Regions from separate parts of the Homo sapiens genome. Here all the other regions are linked to region 4. The links come from fine-mapping of genetic effects on gene expression. A gene starts in region 4. Each other region holds a variant in brackets. All regions are shown on one strand. Distances are from middle to middle. Region 1 overlaps GAK (cyclin G associated kinase). Region 2 overlaps FGFRL1 (fibroblast growth factor receptor like 1). Region 3 holds the start of LOC105374340 (a long non-coding RNA gene). Region 4 holds the start of IDUA (alpha-L-iduronidase).

Region 1 (7,568 bases), 95 kb before region 4:
ACGTGCCTGCACACAATACGAGCACTCAGCTCACACAAGGATTCACAAGCACAAGGACTCACAAGCACCAGCACACATGCTCATACCAGCAATCACACACGCCTATGCACATACTCACACCAGCATTTACACACACATGCACACATGTTCACATATGTATGTTAACACACCCATTCCCTCACATGCACACATGCTCAAAGACACATGCACCCACGCTCACATGTGCAGACGCTGCGGTACATGCAGGCACAAGTGCACACACGTCTACCTGGTGCTGGGGACACAAAACAGTGATCACAGCACAGAACAAAAAACATAAGAAAAAGCCCGAAGGTGTCGCCAGCTGTGGAAGGAACGTGGGCCCACCAGGGGCCGCAGTTCCTGCATCACGGGCACCAGTCCAGCCCAGCTCCTAGGCTGTTTCCTGACATAGCCGACGCCCTTGAGCTGGTGCGACCGCAGGGCCAGATGAGCAGCCAGCGTGCTCCTGGGCGTTCAGCTCCTCAGAAGAGCCAGCGCATGGACCCCGCAACGCAGAGGGGCCGCACTCTGGAACATTCCCAGTGTTCCGTGAGCAGAGGCTGCCGGGCCTGTGGGCCGATGTCGGGGCCACCCCCGCACAGACGCGCCCTTGGACAGCCCACCCAGAGGGAGACTTTCTCCCACCACAGGCTGGGACTCACCTGGTCTAAGTCTGAGTAACTAGGGCTTTAACTCAAGGACTGGCTCAGTGAGGCGCCACCACCGAGGTTTCACCCAATTTACAGAGTCCCGGGAACAAGCCAGGAACGCCCCAGAGTGAGGGGCGACATTGCAGCAAGGGAGGGGAGGGCCCAGGCATCTCCTCAGCAGGGCCTTGCCCCCCAGGCGATGAAAGGAAAGGGATCTGCCTGGCTCTGTGGGATGCTGGGCTCATTCCGACTCCCTGGGAGAAGCGGGTGATGCTGTCCCACTGCCTCAGGGGCCCCTGTGGGGCCTGATGACCAGCTGTTCCACCGCAGCCAGGAAGCAAGGGCCGGGGCTGCAGCCTGGAACGAGCGTGCGGCAGGTCCAGGGCTCTGGAGCCTCACACTCACTTAGCGACGGACTGGATGACCTTGGAGGAGGTGTCCTTGAGGTTGGTGAAGAGCCGCTCTGTCCCACCCCGCAGAATGTCCAGGAAGCCGCCATACGGCTGGTCGTACTCCGCCAGCGCCAGGCCTGCAGGGAGACACAGTCTCAGCAGGCCCCAGGTGCTCGGTCCCACCTCCCCAGGTGCGGGTTGCTGGCTGGGCCCAGGCCCCAGGCGCTCGGTCCCACCTCCCCAGGCGCTCGGTCCCACCTCCCCAGGTGCAGGTTGCTGGCTGGGCCCAGGCAGCAGGAGCAGGGAGTGGGTGGTATGGCCAGGCCCCTGACCCACACGTACCCAGCGGGAAGCCAGGCCTCAGCACTGGCAGGTCTACCCTGTCCTCAGCCTTTCCAGAGACCCAGGAAATGGTCAATCTGGGTGCGGAAGGGCTATGTGGCCGCCTCAGCACAGCTGGGGCTGGGACTCTGTCTGTGGGGATAGTCCGGCCTCACGGCCACAGCTTCAGGCCACCATGACCCTGGACGTGAAGGCAGAGTGGTGGCCCCTGGCCTGGTGGGTCCTGCGAGTGAGGTCTTCACAGGCGGCTTTGGTGGCACAAGTGGTGTTAAAAAAAAAACACCTGGCCAAAGTCCCTCATGCAGACAGGAGACCGAGGCCCAGGCAGCACCGAGCAGATGGGGGCACTGCAGAACCCAGCAGCTCGAGGACTCACCCTTCCTCCAGCCAGCAGAGACCCAGCCAGCCACTACACCTGCATGTGTGGGACCCACACTGCACGGACCGGGGTGCCCCAGACATGGAGCTGAGCTCCTCCCTGGGAAGCGGAGGTGAAGGACCCAGGTGAAACCTCCCACACCGCAGTGGGGATGCGGGGCGAGGTCGGGAGGGGTCAGCGCCATGCAGAGCTGCAGACCCAGCCGCTGCCTGTCAGGGCCATGTCCTCGACGGCTCACCCGGAACCTTCTGGAACACTCCCGGCACGGAGTTCCAAGAGCATGCAGCGTCTGTCTCCAGGGCCCTCTCCACTCCTCACCAGCTGAGGGCCCTCCAGGGACACCCAGGCCCATCACAGGTGCCCACTCCTCATGCGGCAGAAGGGGCCACCTCACACTAGCGGCAGAACTGTCTTCCCCCACCGCCCTCCACTGTCCAATGCCTGCTCCTGCCCCCTGGCCTCAGGGTCGCTACTGTAGTAAATGGTTCACCTTGCCCACAGCAGGCCTGGCCCTTCATTCCCAGCTCCTGGGAAGGAACCTGGGATGCCCCCTCCAGCCCCAAAAGGGGTGTCTGTTTCCCTGGGGCCTTGGGCTGTGCCAGACACGACAATGTGATCTATGCTGGGGTCTTGGCCACGGCGCAGGCTGCCTCCCACATAACCCCTGAGCGAGGCCGCCTGGTCACTCGGGCCCGGTCTCCTGGGCCCTGCCCTGGAGCCTCTTCCCTTGGCTGGCTTTAGTCCGAATCCTGACCCCCTCCTGAACTGCACCAAGACACCAGCTTTGCTGAGCTCTGTGAGCCCCAGGGAACTGCCGAACCTGAGGGTGTGCTCAGGGACCCTGACCTCACAGTCATCTCTGGTGGGAGAGGAGGCCCCGGGAGAGAAGGACCCCAGACTCCATCCCAATGTGCTGCGGGTGCCCGGGGTGCAGCAGGAGCGAGGGACAGGTGGCGGGCACAGGACAGGGCACTCACCTCCACTGTAGCCACTGCCAGCGGGGCCCACGGGAGGGGGTGGCCCTCGGGACAGTGTGGCGCTCCCGTAGCCTCCATTCTGCTCCAGGAGCTGTGACAATGAAAATGCAGAGGTCAGTTCTCTAAACTGACAACTCACGCCTGCCCACGTCGGGCAGAGGTACGGTATGGGTGCCCTCAGAGCCCATCCTTCTGCCCCCTGATCTATGACACAGTGCAAGGGAGGAACTTCCCACAGGCTGAAGCATCAGCTGGAACTCAACAAACGCACGCAGCCCTCATCCCCTCACCCCGCGGCCTGCCTCGCTTGGGGCTGTTGCAGGTGCTCAGCACTCCAGCCCAGCTTTTCAGACTCTTGGGCTACAGCTTCTGTTCCTTTTCCTTTTCTCTCTCTTCCCAGTCTGTCCAACCAACATTTTTTTTTTTTTTTTTGGTAGAGACAGAGTCTTGCTCTGTGACCCAGGCTGCAGTGCTGGAGGGCTGTGGCACGATCTCAGCTCACCGCAACCTCCGCCTCATGAGTTCAAGCAATTCTCCTGCCTCAGCCTCCCAGAGTAGCTGGGACTACAGGCATGCGCCACCACGCCTGGCTAATTTGTTTTGTATTTTAGTAGAGATGGGGTTTCACCACGTTGCCCAGGCTGGTCTTGAACTCCTGAGCTGAGGCAATTCGCCTGCCTCGGCTTCCCAAAGTGCTAGGATTACAGGCGTGAGCCACTGCACCCAGGCTTTTTTTCTTTTTTTTTTTTTTGAAACGGAGTCTCACTCTGTCTCCCAGGCTGGAGTGCAGTGGCATGATCTGGGCTCACTGCAGCCTCCACCTCGCATGCCCAACCATATTAAGCAGACACATGGCCTGTCTGTCCCAGGATGTTCCATCACTTCAGCTCCTGGGTTCTGGGGGCCACCCTGTGAGGCTCACTACCTCCTGGGGGCAGTATTTTATTTCATTGTGAACTCAGCTCCATCATGGACTGTGTTTTCTGGGGGAGTCGGTTGGCTTAAGCAGGGGTCTAACGTCTGTCCCCACGGGGTCCCGGCCTAGAAGCACTCAGATGAGAAGCACTGAGGACCCCGCCCCATCACTAGGGGCCTGATTCTGCCCATCTGCCCAGCGGCACCTCCTCCCGCCCCATCAAGAATCCCTCCAGCGCACTCGACAAAGCAAGAGGCCCACACCCCCCTGCGAGCCCACTGTCCTCTGTGACCTCCGGGGGAGTGGGCAGGCATTTTCTGTAAAGAGCCACCAAGCGAGGGGGACACGAGGCCCAGGCTGCTAAAGAGCAGGACGGCCCAGGAGTGATCCCTTCCTGCCGCTCTCTGACAGCCCCAGGGAAGCTTGCTGAGAGGCCACCAGTGACATCAACTCTCCCGCCTCAGAGCGCCCCACACCTCAAAATGCTTCCAGCACCCAGCACCAGGGCTCCCTCTGCTGGTGCACCCACCATGATGGCCGCCAGAGAGGGGCACCACAGCCTCTCCCCGTCTGCACTGGGCTTCCCAGCACTTCCCTGCTCCCAGGTCTCTGTACCCACGCGGCCCCCAAGGAACTGCAAACCCTCCACACAGCCCAAACCTTCCTTGTCCCACAGGGTCCTGTCCTCAGACAGGGACTCC[G/A]GGCAGCAGCTCTGACCTTCTCCCCACGCTCCACACCCACCGCCTGGGTCAGCTCCACTGCAGTGGCCCCTGGAAGTTCCGGCTTCCAGCTACCAGGGAGTGGAAACGACCCAAGGGCTGAAAAGGGGACAAAATGCAGGAGCCAAGAGTCCTGGGTCCTTGGACACAGACCCCTGCGAGATCTGCAGAGGGGCCCTGCGTGTCCTGACTGGGCCCTGAGCTGGGATGCCCAGGGGCCTCCCTGCTCCCCGTGGGTGAGGGCCGGGCCGCGTGTCTGCTCTGCCTCGAGGATCTGGTGATGGAGATGCTGCACCCTGTCCACGGCTGGGTCAGAAAAGACTCTGAGGAAAGCATCTTCCAGCCAACACGTGCTGCTCCCTCCCAGGCCTCACACTTCCACAAAGCACACGGCCCTGTGGGCCTCAGTCTCCCAGCCCCCAGGCCCTGATGCTGCCAGCAGCCACCGGTGCCTGGGAGTGGACCCTGGCCAGGCCCAGCCCTGACACAACTGCAACCAGGACGCCCAGAGCTGAGCTGAGGGTCAGAAACACAGACGCAGAGCAACTCAGGACACCCCAGGACGCCCAGAGCTGAGGGCTGGCTGACCTGGCTTGGACACCAGACCCCAGAAACAAAGACACAGGAGCAATTCATGCTGTCCTGTCAGGGGAAGAATCTAGAAAGGCGCCTGCAAACCTCAAGGAGGCCAGAGGAGCGCGTGCAGAGTGCGAAGACCTTGGCAATGGTCCCAGCATGCCCCCGGGGTCTCGGCCCTGGGCTGCGGTGGTGACCCTGCTCCTGCAGGAGCCCAGGGCCCTCAAGAGCTTGTGGCTCCCCACTGAAGTGGGCAGAGACCCCCAGGGTGCAGGGTCCGGACGAAGCAGCACAGCCACATGCCACCCTCCTCTCTGTGGGGGGATTTGGGGCTCACATGTGCCTCCCTCCCCTCTGTGATAGGAAACTTGGGGTTCAGGTGTGCCTCCCGCCCCTCTGTGATAGGAGACTTGGGGTTCACATGTGCCTCCCTCCCCTCTGCGGGGGATCTGGGGCTCACGTGTGCCTCCCTCCCCTCTGTGATAGGAGACTTAGGGTTCACGTGTGCCTCCCTCCCTTCTGCAGGGGATCTGGGGCTCACATGTGCCTCCCTCCCCTCTGCGGGGGATCTGGGGCTCATGTGTGCCTCCTTCACCACTGCGGGGGATTTGGGGCTCACGTGTGCCTCCCTCACCTCTGTGATGGGAGACTTGGGGTTCACGTTGCGGGCGGCCGCGATCTCCTGCAGCTGGTGCACCACCTCGGCGATGGACAGCCGCTCCTCCGGGTTCACCTGCAGCATGGCGCCTGCAGCAGAAGCACAGCGCGCTCGGCCCCACGGTTCCCCAGGCGGGTCAGCACCCCCTGCACTGGCAGAGGTCACAGACCACCAGAGGCCACTCCCTCTACACACATCAGTGACGTCAGAAGCAAGAAGGGAGCGGCAAAGGGAAGAACAAAAACCGAACAAAATGATCAAAAATCACCACTCAGAGCACCGCAAATTCACCAGCGGGGTGGGCGGCAGGGGAGCTCTCTGGAAACCCCCCCCCCAGGGATGTTGTCAAAACTATGGTGACGGGCGGGAGTGGGGCCAGGTGAGCAGTGCCCCAAGGGGAGCGGGGTCTCCAGAGCCACGCGGGGTCTGTGCTCCAGGGTCCTGCCCCACGCACGCATTCCACCGGGACTTACGGATGAGGCTGTGGAAGACCGTGTACTGCGTGTCGTGCGGGGGGATCGAGTACTTCCCATTGACTATTCGAAGTTTCGCTCCATCCTCAAAAGGGTGCTGCCGGAAGCACAGCAGGTACAAGATGCAGCCCAGGGCCTGCGGGGAGAGCAGGGGTGATGCCTAGGCCCACGGGGAGCGCAGGGGTGACGCCTGGGCCTGCGGGGAGAGCAGGGGTGATGCCCAGGCCCACGGGGAATGCAGGGGTGACATCGGAGCCGTGGGGAGCGCAGGGGTGACACTGGGGACTGCAGGGAACACAGGGGTGATATCGGGAACATGGGAAATGCAGGGGTGACACCGGGGCCTGCGGGAACAACAGGGGTGACACCCGGGCCGCGGGGAGCGCAGGGGTGACGTTGGGGCCGTGGGGAGCGCAGGGGTGACGCCTGGGCCTGTGGGGAGTGCAGGGGTGACACCCAGGCCTGCGGGGAATGCAGGGGTGACGTCGGAGCCGTGGGGAGCGCAGGGGTGACTCCTGGGCCTGCGGGGAGTGCAGGGGTGACTCCCAGGTCTGAGGGGAGAGCAGGGGTGATGCCCGAGCCCAAGGGGACAAGGGCGTGAGAGGAGCACCGCAGACATGGTGACTGGCCGAGGGGTGGCTCCTTCCTTGGGGATCCTAGGGGTATAGTCGGTGGTTACACAAACATCACTTGACTGTGCGGAGCTGGCGGCGTGCTTCCCACGGCACGGGGAGGCCTGGATGCTCCACTTCTATTCACCGCAAAGAACTGTCCAGGTGACAGTGTTAAACGGACTCTAGGCTCTTAAGATTAAAAAGTTCCGTTCAGGCCGGGCGCAGTGGCTCACGCCTGTAATCCCAGCACTTTGGGAGGCCGAGGCGGGTGGATGACAAGGTCAGGAGTTCAAGACCAGCCTGGCCAACATGGTGAAATCCCGTCTCTACTAAAAATACAAAAATTAGCCAGGCGTGGTGGTGCATGCCTGTAGTCCCAGCTACTCAGGAGGCTGAGGCAAAGAACTGCTTGAACCCGGGAGGCAGAGGTTGCAGTGCGCCGAGATCGCGCCACTGCCCTCCAGCCTAGCAACAAAGCGAGACTCTGTCTCAAATAAATAAATAAATAAATAAATAAATAAATAAATAAAGGTTCCTTTCAAAATTCCGGGGTTCCCACACTCATGCACTGAAGATCTATGAGCTGGTGGGACCAGCACAGACCCTGCTGTGTGCTATGCGAGGGGCAAGGCACCTGTCCTGTCCTTGGCAACAGCAGAGACCCACTTTTCAGAACTGACCCCATATGCAGGGTGTAGGGCACAGGGCAGAAGCTGCAGGAAGCAGCCTCCTCAGTCTGCTCAGGATTTTCGCAGAACTGGCCTTGAACAATCAGCGACTTCTCGTCAATCACCCAATATGTGAGCCCAGAGAAGGGACTGGTGATTACTTCGGCATCAGGATCTTATCCA
Region 2 (7,568 bases), 37 kb after region 4:
GGGAAACCTTCCCGAAGTGTAGCTGGGGCTTTCAGCCTCTGAGGTGGGCTCCCTCCCCAGATGTGGGGGGCTGGGTCAGTGTGCTCCCACCCAGGACAGGGCCAGGCACTCGCTCTCTTGCTTCTTCTGGACAGTTGTGTGGGTGAACACTTGTGTGCACCCATGAACATGCACGTGTGAGGCCTGTGCCCAGGTAGCCAGCCAGGAGGCCCAGGCACCCCTGCAGGCTGTGGGCCACAGGGGCTGGGCTGGCCAGGGGCCTTGGCCACTCCCCCTTGGTCCCGGGAGGCCCTGTGGGTGGTGGGATTTCAGGCAGCGACAGGTGCTGGTGGGGTCAACCTGGGGTGCGTCTGGGACCTGGGCCGGCTGGGAAGGGGTCAGGAGGCCCCAGTGCTGTGGGCCCTGCAGCCGCTTCCTCCCCGGGACAAATTTGCCAGAGCTGCCCCCAGCCCTGGGCAGCTCACAGAACCACACTGAGGGGGTGGTGGGCTGGCAGCCCCCCACAGCCGCCATCTCATTTCCTCTCCGGGGAGCTGCAGGGAGGGTAGGGAAGGAGGGGCTTCAGGGCTGGGGCCCATGGCCTGGGTGGGAGGGTCCTGAGTTGAGGGAGAGACGTGAGTCAGAGAAGAGACCCCCACATGTTTTCTCAGAGAGGCCAAGGACTGGGATGGGCCGGGTGAGCCAGGGCTGAGAAGAATCCCTCCCTCCAGAGCCTCAGCCCACCCTTTGTGTTTCTGGGCACAGCAGGGAGGCGCCGTGTCTCCACTCCCAGCCCCAGCGGCCAATGATGCCTGTGGGCTCAGAACCTAGAGGCCCTGGGCAACGCCCCCTGTGCTATCAGCACTGATTGGGAGGCCTCCAGAGAGGTGATAGGGATTCTCTGTGAGGGTCCCTGTCCCCAGACTTGGGGGTCAGAATGGGAGCTGCTCCCTGAGTGTCTGAAGACGCCAGTGGGAGACGTCACAGGGCCACTGTTAACTGTGTATTGGAGGAACACGCGGCCCCAGGCCCCATCGAGATGGCCTGGAGCAGCTGCTACCTCTTGGTGTTCTGCACGCAGCCTGGACGCTCCCAGACAGCAGTGGCTGCAGTGCGGGATGGACACTGTCACCCATGGGCTGGCGAGAGATGCCCTGGGAACTGTGGGGTGCCTGCGGCCGCCTCTCCGACATGGAGAGCAGTGAGTGGGCTGTGGTCGCCGCTGCAGGACTTGGGAGCAGCACGTGGGGAGTGGGGCACGCAGGGCCCTCCTTTCCCAGGAGCTCCATCCAGGTACAGGCCCTGCGGTGCCCCGAGTTTCTGAGGCCTGCAGGGTCTGTGTGTTCTAGGTTCATCTTCCTGGCCGGCTTGGCACTGCCCACTGGGGCTGGTCACACACACACAGAACCCTGGCCCTGCCTTCCAGCCCAGAGGCACCCAGGCAGGGGATGGGGTGGGGTGGGGACTGAGGCAGGGGATGGGGTGGGGACCCAGGCAGGGGATGGGGTGGGGACCCAGGCAGGGAATGGGGCGATGGGGCGGGGTGGGGACCCAGGCAGGGGAAGGGGCGGGGTGGGGACCCAGGCAGGGGATGGGGTGGGGTGGGGACCCAGGCAGGGGAAGGGGTGGGGCTGGGGTGGGGACCCAGGCAGGGGATGGGGCGGGGTGGGGACCCAGGCAGGGGAAGGGGCGGGGTGGGGACCCAGGCAGGGGATGGGGTGGGGTGGGGACCCAGGCAGGGGAAGGGGCAGGGCTGGGTGGGGACCCAGGCAGGGGATGGGGCGGGGTGGGGACCCAGGCAGGGGAAGGGGCGGGGTGGGGACCCAGGCAGGGGATGGGGCGGGGTGGGGACCCAGGCAGGGGAAGGGGCGGGGTGGGGACCCAGGCAGGGGATGGGGCGGGGTGGGGACCCAGGCAGGGAATGGGGGTGGGGTGGGGACCCAGGCAGGGAATGGGGTGGGGACCCAGGCAGGGGAAGGGGTGAGGTGGGGACCCAGACAGGGGGTGGGGTGGGATGGGGACCCAGGCAGGGGATGGGGTGGGGCGGGGACCCAGGCAGGGGATGGGGTGGGTTCCTTTCTGCCAGGAAAGGAGGCCTCTGCCAGGAAAGGAGGGCTCGGCTTCTCCACATAGGGTGGGATGGTGCAGGTGGCCATGTGGAGCCGCAGCCTTTCTGCTCCTGTGGGTTTCACAGGTGGTGGGAGGACATACTGGCTGCCCCCCAGACAGGAGCGGCAGTGCCCGTGGTCAGCCCGAGCTACGTCTCTCCAGAGGCTTGCTCTCTGACCCCAGGGCCTTGGGGTCATGCCCCCTCAAGGCTAAGGTGCCTGGCAGGGTACGGCCCTTGGGGGTGGGCAGACAGACCTGGGCATCTGTGGTCCCTGAACTCAGGTCTGATATTGACACAGACGTGGGTGCTGCACAGACTCTCATCCACACATTGCACAGGCTCAGGCAGCCCGCCGTGCTCGGTTGCTTGTGGATAGCTGTGGGGTCGCTGGCCCATGCCCAGGCCCGGCTGGGCCCTGGGCTGATGGTTGGGTGGGAATTAGGTGAGGGGCCTGGGGCCTCTTTGGGACCCACCAGGCCCCCCATCCCCCTACTGCCCTTGTCCTTGGGGGGCCACTGTCCCCTCTGACCTCGGGTGTACGGCTGCTTCCTGTATGACCAGAAGGAGACTCTGCCCTTTTGGTTGGTGGTTTTCGAGAGTTACCAAGCGCAGCTGTTTTGCATCCTCTGGGGACCCTGCTCCCTTCTCGTGTCTCAAAGAGCCAGCCTCTGGGGCCACGGGGCTGCCCCGGCCATGAGAGGCTGCTGACGTGGTGTTTGCTGGGCCAGTGCTCAGGGCTTTGGTGCATGTGGGCAGCTGAGGCCTGGGTCAGGGGCACTGCACCTCGGCCCCTCTGCTCATCTTGGGCAGGTGACCCAGGTGGAGCTCAGGCCCGAGGTCTGTGCTGGGCCGTGGGTCCCCTTTTGACCGCCCCCCCGGCTCCGGACCCCAAGCCCCTCCTCGCTGACTGTTCCTCGGTCCCACCCGCAGGCCCCCCAAAGATGGCGGACAAGGTGGTCCCACGGCAGGTGGCCCGGCTGGGCCGCACTGTGCGGCTGCAGTGCCCAGTGGAGGGGGACCCGCCGCCGCTGACCATGTGGACCAAGGATGGCCGCACCATCCACAGCGGCTGGAGCCGCTTCCGCGTGCTGCCGCAGGGGCTGAAGGTGAAGCAGGTGGAGCGGGAGGATGCCGGCGTGTACGTGTGCAAGGCCACCAACGGCTTCGGCAGCCTGAGCGTCAACTACACCCTCGTCGTGCTGGGTTAGTCGCTGCTGC[G/A]GTCAGAGGTCATGGGCTGGGTTGGAGCCAGGCAGGGGTGTGCAGGAGGGCGGACGGGGACACACCTGGGGCCCGAGAGTCAGCCAGCCCCCGGCAGAAAGCCTTCCTTCGGTGCCCTGCCCCACCTCAGCTGGCTGCACCTCTGCCACCATCCCCCAGGTATCCTGTCCCGTTCCTGTCCCCGTCAGGCTCCAGCCTCGGAGCCTTCCTCCCAGCGGAGGGCGGAGGGTGGAGGGCGGGAGCCGAAGGCAGTGGTCCCACAGAAGGGCTGGGGCCCGAGGCCTTGGCAGGGTGTGCCGGCCGTCGGCTGTGACTTTGAGGCTCGGGTTTCGGAGTTCAGAGGAGCCGCCGGGATGCGTGGCCTTTCTGTTCTCTTCTGCGCCTGGGGCCCGGGCGCTGGGCTTGGACAGGTGTCCAGAGAGACACGCCCTCCATACCTAGGGACCCGGCACCCCGCCTGCTCCGCTGGGCTCCTGGGTGTGGGGCCCTCGGGTGGAGCTCCTGGGAGCTGGGCTGGCCCGTTTCTTTTTTTTTTTTAATTCTACTTTAAGTTTTAGGGTACATGTGCCCGTTTTCTGAATACAGGAGCCTGGCCCAGGCCCCAGCAGGGTCTGGGGGTGCGGCCTGAGACAGCCTGGTCCTGGGCTCAGTGAAGGAGCGGCTGTCACAGGGTGGATGGAGGGGACATTCCACAGCACGCCCTGCCCCTCGGCATTGTGTGGAATGGGAAAACTGGCTGTCCCCCACCCCCACCCCACAGTCCTTTCAAAGGGGACGATGACCGGGTGGTATGAGAGTCTCGTCTGTTCACCAGCCCTCGGCCCCTTGATGTAGGCTAGGGTTACTGCAGCTGCTGGCCGGGCCCGGCTCCCTCCTCCCCCGGGGCCTGCAGACCCCCCGGAGCCAGAATGGGGGCCGGCCCTCCAGCCCCACCCGTGCCCATCAGGGTCACCTGCGCCCAGTGTGGGCCAGCGGCCCTTGCCCAGCTGTCCCTGGGATTCTGGGCTGTGGGTGTGTGGCGCAGCCCCCTGCCTGGGTGTCCAGGGCTGTCCCGGCTGGGGCTGGGGGAGCTAGAGGCCACGGGGGAGTTGGGGGAGCTCCTCAGGGCCCCCCTCACCTGCCCTCCCTGTGCACCTCCGTCTCTCTGCAGATGACATTAGCCCAGGGAAGGAGAGCCTGGGGCCCGACAGCTCCTCTGGGGGTCAAGAGGACCCCGCCAGCCAGCAGTGGGGTGAGCAGGGGGTGACGGGGGTGGGGGGCGTCCGTCTGTCCCGGCCCCTTGGCTGCATCCCCGTCCTCTGACCTCCACGCCACCCCACCCCGCAGCACGACCGCGCTTCACACAGCCCTCCAAGATGAGGCGCCGGGTGATCGCACGGCCCGTGGGTAGCTCCGTGCGGCTCAAGTGCGTGGCCAGCGGGCACCCTCGGCCCGACATCACGTGGATGAAGGACGACCAGGCCTTGACGCGCCCAGAGGCCGCTGAGCCCAGGAAGAAGAAGTGGACACTGAGCCTGAAGAACCTGCGGCCGGAGGACAGCGGCAAATACACCTGCCGCGTGTCGAACCGCGCGGGCGCCATCAACGCCACCTACAAGGTGGATGTGATCCGTGAGTGTGGCCCCGGGCGCTGGCGGGCGGGGGGTGCTGGTGGGCGGGGGCGCTGGCGGGCGGGGGTGCTGGTGGGCGGGGGCGCTGGTGGGCGGGGGCACTGGCAGGGCTTGGGGGTGGTGGGCTGGGGGTGCTGGTGGGCCCAGGGTGCTGGCGGGGTAGAGTCCGGCGCGGCCCAGGAGCCATGCCCGCGTGCCACGTTCCCACAGAGCGGACCCGTTCCAAGCCCGTGCTCACAGGCACGCACCCCGTGAACACGACGGTGGACTTCGGGGGGACCACGTCCTTCCAGTGCAAGGTGCGCAGCGACGTGAAGCCGGTGATCCAGTGGCTGAAGCGCGTGGAGTACGGCGCCGAGGGCCGCCACAACTCCACCATCGATGTGGGCGGCCAGAAGTTTGTGGTGCTGCCCACGGGTGACGTGTGGTCGCGGCCCGACGGCTCCTACCTCAATAAGCTGCTCATCACCCGTGCCCGCCAGGACGATGCGGGCATGTACATCTGCCTTGGCGCCAACACCATGGGCTACAGCTTCCGCAGCGCCTTCCTCACCGTGCTGCCAGGTGCGCGGCTGCCACGCCACGCCACACCATGCTGGTGCCCGGACCCGCCCCCTGGGCCCGGCGTCCCACCCACCGGGTGGGGCCCCACCCTTCCCTCCCGGGCCGTGCTGGCCAGGTCATCTGCCGAGGGAGGGCAGCCCAGGGGCACCGTCTCCACAGCCCCTGGGATGGGTCTGGGGTGCTCTCCTGGTCTTTGTGTCGGCGTTCCCCTCCCTACCTCCTTTCCTCTCGCTCTTGCAGACCCAAAACCGCCAGGGCCACCTGTGGCCTCCTCGTCCTCGGCCACTAGCCTGCCGTGGCCCGTGGTCATCGGCATCCCAGCCGGCGCTGTCTTCATCCTGGGCACCCTGCTCCTGTGGCTTTGCCAGGCCCAGAAGAAGCCGTGCACCCCCGCGCCTGCCCCTCCCCTGCCTGGGCACCGCCCGCCGGGGACGGCCCGCGACCGCAGCGGAGACAAGGACCTTCCCTCGTTGGCCGCCCTCAGCGCTGGCCCTGGTGTGGGGCTGTGTGAGGAGCATGGGTCTCCGGCAGCCCCCCAGCACTTACTGGGCCCAGGCCCAGTTGCTGGCCCTAAGTTGTACCCCAAACTCTACACAGACATCCACACACACACACACACACACTCTCACACACACTCACACGTGGAGGGCAAGGTCCACCAGCACATCCACTATCAGTGCTAGACGGCACCGTATCTGCAGTGGGCACGGGGGGGCCGGCCAGACAGGCAGACTGGGAGGATGGAGGACGGAGCTGCAGACGAAGGCAGGGGACCCATGGCGAGGAGGAATGGCCAGCACCCCAGGCAGTCTGTGTGTGAGGCATAGCCCCTGGACACACACACACAGACACACACACTGCCTGGATGCATGTATGCACACACATGCGCGCACACGTGCTCCCTGAAGGCACACGTACGCACACACGCACATGCACAGATATGCCGCCTGGGCACACAGATAAGCTGCCCAAATGCACGCACACGCACAGAGACATGCCAGAACATACAAGGACATGCTGCCTGAACATACACACGCACACCCATGCGCAGATGTGCTGCCTGGACACACACACACACACGGATATGCTGTCTGGACGCACACACGTGCAGATATGGTATCCGGACACACACGTGCACAGATATGCTGCCTGGACACACAGATAATGCTGCCTTGACACACACATGCACGGATATTGCCTGGACACACACACACACACGTGTGCACAGATATGCTGTCTGGACACGCACACACATGCAGATATGCTGCCTGGACACACACTTCCAGACACACGTGCACAGGCGCAGATATGCTGCCTGGACACACGCAGATATGCTGTCTAGTCACACACACACGCAGACATGCTGTCCGGACACACACACGCATGCACAGATATGCTGTCCGGACACACACACGCACGCAGATATGCTGCCTGGACACACACACAGATAATGCTGCCTCAACACTCACACACGTGCAGATATTGCCTGGACACACACATGTGCACAGATATGCTGTCTGGACATGCACACACGTGCAGATATGCTGTCCGGATACACACGCACGCACACATGCAGATATGCTGCCTGGGCACACACTTCCGGACACACATGCACACACAGGTGCAGATATGCTGCCTGGACACACGCAGACTGACGTGCTTTTGGGAGGGTGTGCCGTGAAGCCTGCAGTACGTGTGCCGTGAGGCTCATAGTTGATGAGGGACTTTCCCTGCTCCACCGTCACTCCCCCAACTCTGCCCGCCTCTGTCCCCGCCTCAGTCCCCGCCTCCATCCCCGCCTCTGTCCCCTGGCCTTGGCGGCTATTTTTGCCACCTGCCTTGGGTGCCCAGGAGTCCCCTACTGCTGTGGGCTGGGGTTGGGGGCACAGCAGCCCCAAGCCTGAGAGGCTGGAGCCCATGGCTAGTGGCTCATCCCCACTGCATTCTCCCCCTGACACAGAGAAGGGGCCTTGGTATTTATATTTAAGAAATGAAGATAATATTAATAATGATGGAAGGAAGACTGGGTTGCAGGGACTGTGGTCTCTCCTGGGGCCCGGGACCCGCCTGGTCTTTCAGCCATGCTG
Region 3 (7,568 bases), 140 kb before region 4:
AGACCACAATCTCAGGAGTTCAAGACCAGCCTGGCCAATATGGTGAAACCCCATCTCTACTAAAAATACAAAAAAAAAAAAAAAAAAATTAGCCGGGCATGGTGGCGTGTGCCTGTAATCCCAGCTACTCAGGAGGCTGAGACAGAAGAATCACTTGAACCTGGGAGGCGGAGGTTGCAGTGAGCCGAGATTGCTCCACTGACTCCAGCCTGAGCGACAGGTCAAGATTACATCTTAAAAAATAAATAAATAAATAAATAAATAAAGGTCGGGCATGGTGGCTCACGCCTGCAATCCTGTAATCCCAGCACTTTGGGAGGCTGAGGTGGGCAGATCACGAGGTCAGGAGATCGAGACCATCCTGGCTAACATGGTGAAACCCATCTCTACTAAAAATACAAAAAATTTGGTGGGCGTGGTGGCGGGTGCCTGTAGTCCCAGCTACTCGGGAGGCTGAGGCAGGAGAATGGCATGAACCTGGGAGGCAGAGCTTGCAGTGAGCTGAGATTGCACCACTGCACTCCAGCCTGGGGGACAGAGCGAGAGTCCGTCTCAAAAAAAAAAGAAATACCCAAGACTGGGTGATTTATAAAGGAAAGAGATTTAATTGACTCACAGTTCCCCATGGCTGGGTAGGTCTCAGGAAACTTACAATCATGGTGGAAGGGGAAGCAGGCACTTCCTCACAAGGCGACAGGAGAGACTGCACAAAGAGAGAAGAGCCTCACACTTATCAAACAGCCAGATCTTGTGAGCACTCACTCACCAGGGGGAAACCACCCCCAGGATCCAATCACCTCCCTCCCTCAACATGTGGGGATTACAATTCGAGATGAGATTCGGATGGGGATACAGAGCCAACCACATCAGCAGCTGAGGGGGCTGGCAGCAGGGACTTGGAGTTTGATCTTGGGGAAGTGCCAAGGCCAGAATGTGGGGGCTGTGCCGCATGGACCTGCCTCTTCTGGGCCCTTCTCCAGTCATTAGACCAACCGGAAGCCCCCTCTATCCTAATCTGAGGCCCATGACATCTACGGGGTCTGCAGCCTCTTCCACAAAGGGGGTGCCCTAGACCTGAGACCAGCATCCTCAGCTTGCGCATGACTGCCCGGCACACCTGGGGCTGGGGGCAGGTTCCCACCCCATCTGAAGGGGCTCTGATGCTGGTATGCGCACAGGGGCCACCCCCAACTGGCAGCACAGCCTCCCCCTGCCCTTGGGTTGCTGTGCTTTTCCTCAGAGCTCCTGGAGGTAGTGAAGGTGAGAACAGCCAGCTGCTGAGGCTGCTGCTGTTTCTTACCTAAGGTGAGGCCCGGCAGGACGCTCAGCAGCTCCAGGACTCGGTGGGCAAAGCTTTGGGGCAAGCCCTTTTGGAGAAAGCAGTTTGGGGCGGCCAGACGGTGGTCTGTGGCCCTGGAATCTTTGTCCAAACTGACAGAAGGAGGAGGAAATCGGTGTCCCTGCCATGCCCCCTGTGCCCAGGGGTCGCTGCCTGGATGAGGGTCTGGCATGGGGCTTAGACCTTCAGCTCCACCCAGGCCTGTGGGTGGGGTCGGCGCGCGGCTGCCTGGAGCTATGGCCACAGTGCAGGAGCGGGGATGAGCTCCTGGAGATGAAGACATAAGCAGGACTTCAGCCTCAGCTGACCTCAGCACTCAGCTTTTCTGCTAAAAGCAGCTCAGGGACAAAATCAGCCCCTCCCCCAGATCTGAACCTCATTCCAGCCACACTGGCCTCCTGCATGACTCAGTGCCCCCCTCATCTCCTTGCAGCCAAGTCCTCCCACTTGGAGGCCCACAGAGTTGGGGGGGGCCTCCATCTTGGGGCAGATGCCCACACCTCTGGGGTTGGCCTTCCTCAGAGCCCTGGAGCTCCCTGGGGGCACAGGGAGAGGAGGCCCATGGGAGCCCAGGGAGGTGGCCTGAGGGCAGCTGGACATCTGGGGGATGGGGGGGTGTCACGGGCCACCTGGAAAGCAGCCTGCTTAACCCACTGGAGCTTACTATTGAGGGTCTGAGCCCCCGCAGGACAGAAATGCAATCTGCACACGTTTGAGGAGCACAGTTTGAGGCATTTGACGCGTGCTTGCCTGAAGCCAGCACATCCTCCTCCGCCCACACCCGCCAGCCACGGATCTGCTGCTGGCCTGTCGCGGACTTCACATTTGCTGGAATTTTACACGAATGGAGTCGTTCACTACCTCCCTCCTTTTGATCTGGCCCCATTTACTGAGCTTGCTGCTCTTCTGACAGTATGGTTTGGATCTGTGTCCCCACCCAAATCTCCTGCCAAACTGTAATCGCCACATGTCAGGGGAGGGGCCTGCTGGGGGGTGACTAGATCCTGGGGCAGACTTCCCCTTGCTATTCTCCGGATAGTGAGTTCTCACAAGATCTGCTTGTTTGGAAGCGTGCAGCACTTTCCCCTTTTACTCACTCGCTCTCCCTCCTCCCACCAGCTAAGACGTGCCTGCTTCCCCTTCGCCTTCCGCCATGATTGTAACTTTCATGAGGCCTCCCCAGCTATGTGGAACTGTGAGTCCATTAATCCTCTTTTCTTTATAAATCACCCTGTCTGAGATATGTGTTTATAGCAGTGTGAGAACAGACTAACACACCTGGGCATGCCCTGTGCTGCAGTCACACCAGCAGCTCACCCCTCTCCATGCTGAGCAGGACCCCGTGGCGCCGTCACACCAGCAGCTCACCCCTCTCCATGCTGAGCAGGACCCCGTGGCGCCGTCACACCAGCAGCTCACCCCTCTCCATGCTGAGCAGGACCCCGTGGCGCCGTCACACCAGCAGCTCACCCCTCTCCATGCTGAGCAGGACCCCGTGGCGTGGACGCACACAGCTCCTTCGTATGTCCAGCTGTGCGTGGATCATGGGTTGTTCCTGAACACGTCTGTGTGGCCTTGCTCTTTCATTTCTCTTGGGTCAACACCTAGGAGCAGATTGCTAAACTGTGTACGAAATTTCTATTTTGCTTTTTTTTTTTCTTTTTGACATGGAGTTTTGCTCTTGTTGCTCAGGCTAGAGTGCAATGGCGCGATCTCGGCTCACTGCAACCTCCGCCTCTCAAGGTTCAAGCGATTCTCCTGCCTCAGCCTCCCGAGTAGCTGGGACTACAGGTGTGTGCCACCATGCCCGGCTAATTTTGTATTTTTAGTACAGACGGGGTTTCTCCATGTTGGTCAGGCTGGTCTCCAACTCCTGACCTCAGGTGATCCGCCTGCCTCCGCCTCCGCCTCCCGAAGTGTTGGGATTACAGGTGTGAGCCACCGCACCGGCGTCTATTTTGCTTTTTAAAAGACTGCCGGCCGGGCGCGGTGGCTCACACCTGTAATCCCAGCACTTTGGGAGGCCGAGGCGGGTGGATCACGAGGTCAGGAGATCGAGACCATCCCGGCTAACACGGTGAAACCCCGTCTCTACTAAAAATACAAAAAATTAGCCGGGCGTAGTGGCGGGCGCCTGTAGTCCCAGCTACTTGGGAGGCTGAGGCAGGAGAATGGCGTGAACCCGGGAGGCGGAGCTTGCAGTGAGC[C/T]GAGATCCCGCCACTGCACTCCAGCCTGGGCGACAGAGCGAGACTCCGTCTCAAAAAAAAAAAAAAAAAAGACTGCCAAGCGGTTTTCCAAAGCAGTTGTGCCATTTTAAGCTCCCACCCAGACTGCGTGAGGGTGTGGGCTTCTCCACATGCGTGGGGACACTTGGCTTGGTGGGTCTTGACTGGGTGCCCTAGTGGGTGCGGCAGCATCTTGCTGTGGCTCCAACTTGCATTTCCTCCAGGACCAGTGATGTGAGCATCGCTGCTTGGCCGCTGCCATTTGTATCTCCGTGAAGTCACCGAGAAGATGCTGTCACACAAGGGGGTGTCACACAGGTGCAGTCTCTCTTCAAGCTTCACGTGGTCTATGCATTACAACCCGGCAAGGATGACCTTGTGTCCACGTGCAGGACGGAGCATAGTCACAGGCTCGGTGACCGCAGACCCGGCTCCCACGTGCAGAATGGAGCCTCAGTGACTGTGGGTAGCACTCAGGCCAGTGGCCGGCTGGGAAGATGGTGCATCCTGGGCCTTTCACGTGTGGGTGTCCGGGTGGCGCCGTGCGTGACCCTGTGCAGCCGTGTCTGCGTGTGCGCAGGTGTCCGGGTGGCGCCATGCGTGACCCTGTGCAGCCGTCTGCATGTGCGCAGGTGTCCGGGTAACGCCGTGCGTGACCCTGTGCAGCCATGTCTGCGTGTGCGCAGGTGTCTGGGTGGCACCGTGTGTGACCTTGTGTAGCCGTCTGCGTGTGCGCACGGCTTGTACATGCCTGTGCACCTGCGTGTCTCCATGCTGAGCTGAATGGTTGGAAGAGGAGAAATTCTGGCGGTAGCATGGCCAGGTGGGGGCCACAGACTCCCTTCTGAGCTGGGTCAGCCTGGATGGGGGTTTTCCTGTCCTGCAACCCAGACCCCACCGTCCTGGCCTCCATTCTATGCACTCCATCTCAGCCTACCCCGGACCAGTGACCTGCTGCACTCCACACCTTCCTCCATCCTCCGCAGTCTCGGCCTAGCCTGGACCGGCCACCCGCTGCTCTCCACACATAACCAGAGGCTCAGGCCCCTGACGGAGGAAGGGTGTGCAGCCAGCCAGAGGGAGGTGGACTCACTTGTCCAGGCAGGGTGGCTGGGTTTGCCACAGGCCGGGGAGAAGCGACCCAAGCTTTCAGAGTTAAGGGTCTGGGGCGGGGTCTGGGGGATTAGTTTGGAGCTTGGGTGTGACGTGGGCGGCAGCAGGAGAGGAGGGGGCCGCACAGCACAGGGCTGAGGCTGGAGAGCCTAGAGGGAGCGTGGCCCGAGCTGCCCCCAGAGCAGGAGCATCTGAGTTGGGGTGGCCAGACCCGGAGCCGGAATCCAGACGACCTTGATGTGAAAATCTCAGCACCTATTTAGCTTCTCATTATTTTTTAAAAGAGCTAAAAATAGTGGCGGGTGCATAGCAAACGTGCAGTCATTATTCTCTGAAAACAGGAAGAGCCTGGCGGTGAGTTCAGGGCTATGATTCAGGGCCTCCTCGAGTCTGCTGTGGGGTGGGGGCTCACCATGGTCACCTTCTCCTTCCAGGGGCCCCTGGTCCTCCACCAGCCCGACAGCCCGGAGGCCACCTTGGCCCTGCGGGGATGGCACAGGGGCAGTGTGGAGCCCACCCTTGCTCCTAGGTCCAGGGCCCAGGGGCAGGGGCCAAGTGGAGAGGAGAGAGGAGTCCCGGGGCCGAGGGGAGGAAGGGGGTCTGGGGACTGCAGGGGCCCCCGCCCTTGGCCTTGCCCTGGCTGGGCTCTATGGCCCCCTGAAGAGCTGCCCAGAGCCGCTGCAGCCCCGGGACCCGCTTCTCCTCTCCACTCGGCCCCTGCAACAATCCAACCACGGCAAGGTTGCTGAGGAAGCACAGCCTTGTGCCCCAGCTGGTGAACGGCACCTGGGCGAGTGGATCCACACTGGAGACACAGCAGTCATCGGAAAATAGTTTAATTCTGTACAGACAACCACGGGACTGATTACAAAGTGCGGTGCAAACACCAGGGCCCATGAGCGCCAGCAGCGTGGCCCACCACGTGCCGGGGCTCCAGAGGCCACGCCCGAAACACCAAATAAATCACAGACGTGACAATTGCGGGAGGAGCATGAATCAGCTGTTCCTTCGGGAGGAGAAAAAGGAAACAACAATCAGAGGCTTTGGAATGCTTTCTCTTCATGTGCCTGGAACGCTGGGCGGGCGGTGACCCGGGGCTCGGAGCCCCACCCTGGCCACACCTGCTGTCGCCCACGGGGTCCTCACGGTGGGGACCCAGGTCCCACGACGGCTCCCAACCTGTGGAGCTGTGTGCGCAGCCACCACCACTGCGGCCTCAGAAGAGGGGCCGGGAGCCCTGGTTCTCAAACTCCGACCAGGCGTCATTCAGCTCCATGAAGATCATCTTGGCGTGCTGCTCGTACGGCTGCCCCGCAGCCTATGGGTGACAGGCGGTGTAAGCGCCTCTTATAAGCATGCGGGGGCGGGCGGGGCAGGACCCCCCCCCCGCCCCGCCCCTGAAGGCCTCAAGCGGCCGCCTGGCAGCTCTGCTCACCTTGTCGGGGTGCACAGCCAGCACCGCGCGGCGATAGTGCTTCTTCACTTGCTCCGGAGCCACCAGGTCGGCCATGCCCACGGGCGTCCAGCGGCTCTCCCCGTCCCACAGCACTGTGTGCAGCGTGGACAGCAGGGCCCGGATGTTCCGCTCCTTGCCCTCAATCCAGTCCAGGAGCTGCGGGAGACACGGAGCTTGCCGAGCCCTGGGCACCTGCCTGCCCTCCTCCTCTGCACCGCGGAAACTGAGGCACGACGCTGAGGAAGTGCCTGGTCACGTGGGGTGGGCTCAGCCCGGCTCACAGACACTGTCCCACTGCACGCCCTGCCCTCAACTATATAGAGCCCACTCCGGACGACACAGGGCCAGGTGGTCTTCATGTTTCAGGGCCTGGGGCCAGAGGGACCCTCGTCTCAGCCAGATGTTCACCGAGGACACAAACCCTGGTTCTGGTGGTGCAACCCCTTGGCCCATCCCAGGCCCCAGACTCCGAGGGAGAAGGGGATGGTCCCTGGTGCCTGTGAAAGGACCCCAAGGTCACAGGCGCATGTGGCCTGCAGAGCTGGGCATCGGCCAAGCCACAGAGCAGGGCGTGTCTCAGGGCCGGCACAGTGACAGCCTGACCGCTGCATCCTCACCCCCCAGTGAGCGTCCTGGGTTGGGAGGCTCAGTACCCAGAGCAGCCCCCAAGAGACGCCTGCCCTCAACAGTCTCTGCAAACACCCCGGGGCACTCACTCCTGTAACGCCCGCCCACCCCACCCCCACCAGCGCTGAGCCATCTGGGCACGTGGGGAGCAGCACAGCCTGGGGCCTGACTCTGCCCTGCCCCCCTGGCCTCAGGCCACCCTGTCCTTGAGGGCTGCCAGGCCCATCGGCAGTGACAGGTCCCTGTCTGGAGACGCCGGCTCCATGTGGTACAGCAGATGCTCCAGGGGTGAAAGGTTGCTGTCTGGAGACGCCGGCTCCATAAGGCACAGCAGATGCTCCAGGGGCCATGGGTTGAGGCCTCTGGGCTCCCAGGAAGAGCTGCCCACCCACCCACCTTCAGCTTGAGTGGGTCCGTGTCTTTAGCCAGGTCCTGCTTCCTCATCTCTGCAATGGTCTTTGGCCCTTTCTTGTCAGACCTGGAGGAGAAGCCTTGATTGGACAACAGATCTTCAAAGTCGTTCTCAGAGACTTTTGGCTTTTGAGCTAGAAAAGAACAGAAACTTTTTTTTGTTTGAGACAGGGTCTCCACTCTGTCACCCAGGCCAGAGTGCAATGGCGTGATCTCAGCTCTCTGCAGCCTTTGCCTCCCGGCCTCAAGCGATCCTCTTGCCTCAGCCTCCCAAGTAGCTGGGACCACAGGCATGCGCCACCATGCCTGGCTAATTTTTACATTTTTTGTAGAGAGGAGGTATCACTGTTGCCCAAGCTGGTCTTGAACTCCTGGGCTCCAGCGATCTGTCCGCCTC
Region 4 (6,669 bases):
CTCTGTGTCAAACCCCCCTCCGTCTCCCCTGTATAGGAACACTGGGATTACACTCAGGGCCCACTCGGATAACTAGAATCATCTCTACGTCTTGGATGCTTCACGGAACCATGCCTGCAGGCGCTCGCCATGTGAGGCGACAGGCGCGGGCCTGGACAGGACGGAGGGCGTCTTCAGGAGGCTCTCCTCCCCTCTCACTTCACTTTTCCCATACAGCACCTGTGCCACTCTTGCTGTAAATCCTAATTCCCCAGAAATATGTGAAACCCTGTAACATGATTGTTTTATGCGGTTACGATTCATTAGGTTTATACACAATATACCGTTTCTGTTGCTTTTGTTGGGGTTCAGAAAATGTCACCCAGAGTGAAGGCCTTGGAAGCCAGGCCTTCTCCTGCCTCCTGTCTCTGGCCCCTCATTGTCCCAGGCAGGTCGTAGAAACCTAAGCCCCTTTTCCCCAAAGCCAGCCATAAACCTAAAAGTATGACTCTAATAACTTTTCTCTGTCTTTCTGTGTAAAAACTGGCCATAAAGGAATTCTCTGGCCTGCCTTGTTTGACTGTATGTGGTCAGACCCCTATTCCGGGGCGTTGTGCCCCCACCCAGCAGGAGGGAGAGCTGCAGAGAGAGGCCTCCAGGAACCGAAGCAGATGGGCCTCGCTGGGCTCCCCCAGGAGTCTGTTAGCCTGTCAGGTCTTAACCTTTCGTCCAATCCTATTTCCAGATTCACAGAACCTGAGTATAAAAATGTGGTTTCCCCTGCGCCTTTAGGTCTTTGCTCTGAAAGCTGCTGTGTCACATAAAACTACAATCCAAGAAATCTGTGTACCCTTTTAGTGAAACTTCAGAAAGGCAGGGGAGGTTTTCCCTTCCCCCCGCACTCTTCACTTCTTCCTCTGCACCTCTGAGCTGGGATTTGGGACATCATTCTTTCTACTTGAAGAACACCATTTAATTTTGTCTTTTCTTTTTGAAACAGGGTCTCACTCTGTTGCCCAGGCTGGAGTGCAGTGACGTGATCTTGGTTCACTGCAGCCTCTGCCTCCCAGGTTAAAGCAATTCTCCTGCCTCAGCCTCCTGAGTAGCTGGGATTACAGACGCATGCCACCACGCCCGGCTAATTTTTGTATTTTTGGTAGAGACAGGGTTTCACCATGTTGGCCAGGCTGGTCTCGAACTCCTGACCTCAGGTGATCTGCCCGCCTCAGCCTCCCAAAGTGCTGGGATTACAGGCATGAGCCACCTTGCTCAGCCTAGTTGGATTTAATTTGCTGTTAAACCAATTCGTTATCAGCTTTACTGAGATATGATTTACATACAATAAAATGAAGCAAGTTCAAGTGTATCATTCAATAAATTTTTACTAAGTTTCATGAGGTTTTAATATTTTTTTCAATGTTTTCATTTTGAAAAATTTCAAACTCACAGAAAAGTTGCAATAACAGTATATAGTTTTCACCCAGGTTCACCAACTGTTAATATTTTGCTACCTTTGCTTTTATCTCAGTCTCTGTATGTAATCTAAATTTATTGTTTTGCTTTAATTTCCAGAGCAACTTTGGTTACAAATCTATTGATTCTTCACCTCTAAACCCTTCAGCATGGATCACAAATGAACAAAAAATCTCCATTCACAACCGTGATGCAATCATTGAGTCGTTTAATAATTCTGGAGTTTGACCCAGCGCGGTGGCTCATGCCTATAATCCCAGCACTTTGGGAGGCCGAGACAGGTGGATCATTCGAGGTCAGGAGGTCGAGACCAGCCTGGCCAGGATGGTAAAACGCTGTCTCTACTGAAAATACAAAAATTGGCTGGGCGTGGTGGCTCATGCCTGTAATCCCAGCTACTCAGGAGGCTGAGGCAGAGGTTGCAATGAGCTGAGATCGCACCACTGCACTCCAGCCTGGACAACAGAGTGAGACTTCGTTTAAAAAAACAAAAAACAAAAACAAAAAAAATTCTGGAGTTTATCATTGGTAGAATTTTGTTGCACAATGTACAAGGCATATTCCAAATTGTGAATGTCCCCATCATGCACTTTGTAATAATTTTTCCTGACCCGGATCCATTCCAGCACCGTGCAGTGAGGACTTCTGTCTGTTTTTGTTTTGTTTTACCTTCCTCCAGGGAAGGTGTACTTTTCTGTCCACAGGTGTCCCGGTGAGCGGCTCACCTTAATTCTCTCAGGGCTTGAGGTGATTTAAGGCTGGCTTCAGTCCCCACAAAGACAATTCTGTTGCTGGTTTACCTTTGCTTTTAGGGGATAGAACTTTGGGGTCCCAAGAAAAACCCAAAGTCTTTACCAGGCCCCCCGCCTGAGCCTCGACTTCTGTCCTGTGGCCACAGTGTGAGGAACGAACGCAGCAGCGTGTCGCCATGTCTTGTGTGGCTGGGATACGCTGCAGGGGTGTGGAGTCGCCGCCCCAAAGCGGGCCCCGCCCCCTCCCGGCTTGTCCCTGCAGAGCCCCGAGGCCTCAGAGGCTCCTCAGAGCTCCCAGTGCCCTGGACGGTTCCGTTCAGCGCTCTCCAGTTCTGATGGTTGCTCTCAGGAGGCGGCTGGTCTGAAACAATTCAGTTTCCATTGCTGTGTCCTGCACCACGGTGTGGGACTGGTGGTTTCTTACTGTTTTTCTCAGTTCTCTGACGCTTTGAGGAATTGTTTTTAAAGCGAGTTATCCATCATTTTAGTTGTTTTCTCTGGGGTCGTTGGACTGAGGGTCTTACCCCGCTGTTCCTGGAGACAGTTCTGTACTTGCATGGTTTCTCTCGCCTTTCCCTCCCTTTCTTACTTTTTAGTTTCTTAATGAATTTTTTTGTATTATGTTTTTCCTCCTTGCTAATTTGGAATATATACACACTATTTCACTTTTAAATGGCTAATCACTTTTAATGCAATTTCAACATAAGAAGACCTAATGTTAAGCAATATTTTAACCCCTCTCCCCAAAATAAAAAGACCCAGAACACTGTAACTCTAATTATCCTTCTCCCAACTTAGAGAGGATTATTGTCCAGTATTTTCGTTTTGTTAGTAGACTGTTCTTTTTTTCTTTTCTTTTTTTAGAGATGGGGTCTCATTTTGTCAACCAGGCTGGAATGTAGTGGTGTGATCATGGCCCGTCTCAGCCTTGAACTCCTAAGCTCAAGCAATCTCCCACCTCAATTTCGTGGGTAGCTGGGCCTCACAGGCATATACCATCGCATCTGGCTAAATTTTTTTTTTGTACAGATGGGGTCTTGGTACATCTCCCAGGCCGATTTCAAACTCCAGGCCTCAAGTGATCCTCCCGTGTTGGCCTGCAATTCCAAAGTGCTGGGATTGCAGGTGTGAGCCACCGCACCAAGCCTGTTCTTTCCATTATTATTTTTATACAATGTTTGCTTGGATTCACACATGCATACATGGACTACACATGTACTACAGTTGTCCCATGGTATCCTCGGGGTATTGGTTCCAGGACCCTCCCAGATACCAAAATTTGCAGGTGCTCAAGTACTTGATATAAAATGGCACAGTATTTGCACATTACCTACGCACATCCTACTGTGTAGTTTAAATCAAGATTACTTATAGTCCCTAAAACAATGTAAATGCTCTGTAAATAGCTGTTATACTGTATTGTTTTAAAATATGTATTATTTCGTATTGCTTTGGCTTTAAAACAATATTTTCAGTCTGCTTGGTTGAATCCATGGATCTGAAGCCAAGTGTAAGGAGGGCCCAGTGTGCTCTTCTGGGGTAATTCTCCTTCCTGCTAAAGCGCACGCTTTACTCAGGAGGCTGGGGTGAGAAAATCGCTGAAGCCCCGGAGATGGAGGTTGCAGTGAGCTGAGATCGCGCCACTGCACCTCAGCCTGGGCGACAAAGCAAGACTCTGTCTCAAAAACACACAAAAACAGAGAAAAACAAGACAGTAATGGCTCAACTCACATAGCACCAACGGGCGAAGCGTTCTTCTGAGCGCTTTCCGAGTCATCGGTCCTCAGAGCAGCCCCTGAGGCCCGCAAGGAAGCGGGGCTCCAAGCCCTGCCGTGCTCCCGGCTCCCCGAGGCTCCCCGAGGCCACCCAACCCCTCCCACCCGGCCATCGCCCCCTCACCAAGGCCCCGCCCCGCGGCGGCGGTCACATGGGGTGCGCGCCCAGACTCCGACCCGGAGGCGGAACCGGCAGTGCAGCCCGAAGCCCCGCAGTCCCCGAGCACGCGTGGCCATGCGTCCCCTGCGCCCCCGCGCCGCGCTGCTGGCGCTCCTGGCCTCGCTCCTGGCCGCGCCCCCGGTGGCCCCGGCCGAGGCCCCGCACCTGGTGCATGTGGACGCGGCCCGCGCGCTGTGGCCCCTGCGGCGCTTCTGGAGGAGCACAGGCTTCTGGTGAGCGCTCCGCGGCCTCCGGGACCCCCTGGCCGCACGGGGAGAGCTCGGGCGCCCCCTGACTGCGCACTGTGAGAGCTTCAGAGACCGGAGCTCCCTCCTCTGGGGCCCTGGCTCTCCCGGGCCCGCCCCCCGCCGTGTTTGTGGGTGGGTCCTCCACCTGAGTGGGCGCCGGGGCGTGAGCCTGGGCCGCCCCCTGCAGCCCAGGCCGATGCCCGGGATCCTGCTCTTTGAGGTAAACCAGGAGTCTCCCCTGGGAGTGGACGGCCCTGCAGCGGGACCTGGCCTGCCTGTCCCATTCCTTCCACCTAGAGCTGAGGTACCCGCCTTCCTGGCAGGGCCAGGGCCAGGGCTGGCGTTGGCCCCTCGTCTTACTGCTGCTGCCGTTCCCCATGAAGATGGGACCTCCCCACATTCCTGGCCCTAAGGGTCATTTTATTAGTCACTGAACGCACGGGCAGCGCCTGGATCCTGCGCCCGGGCAGTCCTGGGCTTGAACGTGTGTGTCAGCCGCGCTGCCAGCCATGCTGAGGCTCGGGACTGAGCCGCCCCTTTGTTGTCCCCAGCCCCCCGCTGCCACACAGCCAGGCTGACCAGTACGTCCTCAGCTGGGACCAGCAGCTCAACCTCGCCTATGTGGGCGCCGTCCCTCACCGCGGCATCAAGCAGGTCCGGACCCACTGGCTGCTGGAGCTTGTCACCACCAGGTGGGCGGCGGGCAGGGTCTGGGCGTCCCAGAGCCCCTTACAGAGGCACAGATGGGAGGGGAGGGCTGGGGGCTGCTCGGAAGACCCCTTGTTCCCCCACCTCCCGCCGAAGCACCCTGTTGGGGAGAGCGTGTCCTTGCTGGCTGTGCTGGGGTGAGGGCTGTGTGCTGGAGGGAGCCCCTGCATGGGGCACGGTGGGCTTCCTGCAGGTCTCCCTGCAGGCTCAGGGTTGGCTGCGCCGCACCTGGCTCCTGGTGCACCCGTGAGCATCCCTGTGTGTGTCTGCTGGCCAGGCTGGGTAGGGCCACTGCACCTGAGGGCTGAGCTGAGGTCTCATCGGTCACAGCACCCTGGGCCCTGACGCTGGTGCAGGTGGCCACCCTGTGAGGGGGAGGCACGAGGTGTGAGGGGCACTTGGGTGTGTGGGGCCTTCTGGAAACACAGAGACCCTCGTGCACTTGGCCAGAGCCGCTGGCTCCTACCAGCAGGGTGGGCACCGGGCAGGCCTGGGCATAGGGAGTCCTCTTGGCACCTTGGAGGCTGCATGATGGCGGGGGACCCTTGTTCAAATAAGATGTCAACCCTGAGCGTCAGGTCAGGCCCATCCCTCCTGAGCTGAGGGACGGTGCATTGGGGCCCAGCCAGCACTGTGGGCCAGCCTGTCTCGGAGGCAGAGGTTCTTGATTTCTGAGTGTTTGGGTCCTGCGTGTGATCAGAGGGCCTCCTTTCCCAGTTGGGGTTCCCCGGTTTCCCCAGGGCAGCTGTGGCACAAGAGTGCAGCTCTTGGGTGGCTCCTCCCTGGGAAGGGTCTCAGCAGTGGCTTGCAGACGTCTGCTGTGGGTCCCCAGGAGGGAGCAGAGGCTGCTGGGCAGGCCTGGCCCTGCTACAGATGGGCATCGGTGGCCTCCAGCTCCCTGTGGCGGGCTCGTGCTGTCTGCACGGCATCGTGCACACTGAGGAACAGCTGCTCCTCCTCAGCCGTGTCCCCGGGGCCCTCCCCGAGGAAGCCTCCTCTGCTCAGAATGTCTCTCACAGGCGGGCTGCAGCAGGCTAGCAGCAGGCTGATGCCCAGGGCCCCGTAGTCTCGGCGCAGGTCCTGCAGCGTGCTCACACCGGCTGCGTCTAGGAACAGCAGCGGGGCGCAGTCGATGACCACTGTGTGGAAGCCGGCCGCTGCGGGCACCAGCGCAGCCCTGGTGCTAACCGGGCCCAGGTCCTCGCCCTGGGCAGGGCCTCCCTCACCGACCCCCGTCTCTGAGCCCCCCTCCTTCCTCCTGGCAGCCATGCACCCTGCGTCCAGCCCCGTGAGGCTGTAGAGTGACTGCAGGAAGAAGTCCTTGTTGGCATAGTACAGCGGCCCCCCAAAGCGGAACACCCGCACGCCGGGCTCAGGGACGAGGCCCTCGAACTCTGTGGCATCCTCGTAGAAGGCCGTGTCCCCGATGCGGGCCAGCAGGGCGGTGCGTGGGCGTTGGGTGCGGCCGGCCAGGCTGAGCAGCGAGAGGATGACGCCAGCCAGCAGCCCGGCCTCTGTGCTGACCAGCATACAGGTGGCCGCGGTGCCTGCCCAGACCAGCGCGTCAGCCGGGC

The links. PIP is the estimated chance that this variant, and not a neighbour inherited with it, causes the effect.
Region 1: its variant is the best candidate, but not a certain one, in a credible set for the expression of IDUA in whole blood (INTERVAL, PIP 0.89).
Region 2: its variant is the best candidate, but not a certain one, in a credible set for the expression of IDUA in whole blood (INTERVAL, PIP 0.52).
Region 3: its variant is the best candidate, but not a certain one, in a credible set for the expression of IDUA in atrial appendage (GTEx, PIP 0.72).

Annotation. Positions count from the first base shown.
Region 1 is chr4:887,771-895,338 of GRCh38, forward strand. GAK (cyclin G associated kinase) reads right to left here. Exons shown (of 28, transcript NM_005255.4): 8 at 6,104-6,239; 9 at 5,607-5,719; 10 at 2,762-2,852; 11 at 1,077-1,200. Among named protein-coding and RNA genes, the nearest start is that of GAK, 41 kb to the right of the region's middle. RefSeq lists an enhancer at 1-36. The variant G/A (reference allele first, on the strand shown) is at 4,379.
Region 2 is chr4:1,019,184-1,026,751 of GRCh38, forward strand. It overlaps FGFRL1 (fibroblast growth factor receptor like 1), which reads left to right. Exons shown (of 7, transcript NM_001004356.3): 3 at 3,020-3,292; 4 at 4,458-4,538; 5 at 4,634-4,918; 6 at 5,128-5,481; 7 at 5,722-7,568. The coding sequence ends at 6,164. Among named protein-coding and RNA genes, the nearest start is that of FGFRL1, 11 kb to the left of the region's middle. RefSeq lists enhancers at 6,562-7,063, 7,064-7,563. The variant G/A (reference allele first, on the strand shown) is at 3,308.
Region 3 is chr4:843,780-851,347 of GRCh38, forward strand. It overlaps GAK (cyclin G associated kinase), which reads right to left. Exons shown (of 28, transcript NM_005255.4): 26 at 7,157-7,305; 27 at 6,113-6,289; 28 at 5,498-5,995. The coding sequence ends at 5,894. It overlaps LOC105374340 (a long non-coding RNA gene), which reads right to left and starts at 3,042. Exons shown (of 4, transcript XR_925033.3): 1 at 2,618-3,042; 2 at 1,301-1,606; 3 at 653-703. The variant C/T (reference allele first, on the strand shown) is at 3,547.
Region 4 is chr4:982,871-989,539 of GRCh38, forward strand. IDUA (alpha-L-iduronidase) reads left to right here and starts at 4,174. Exons shown (of 14, transcript NM_000203.5): 1 at 4,174-4,372; 2 at 4,939-5,079. The coding sequence starts at 4,215. SLC26A1 (solute carrier family 26 member 1) reads right to left here. Exons shown (of 3, transcript NM_022042.4): 3 at 4,787-6,669. The coding sequence ends at 5,963. RefSeq lists enhancers at 2,536-2,585, 3,761-3,820, 6,401-6,669 and silencers at 4,031-4,680, 4,463-4,640.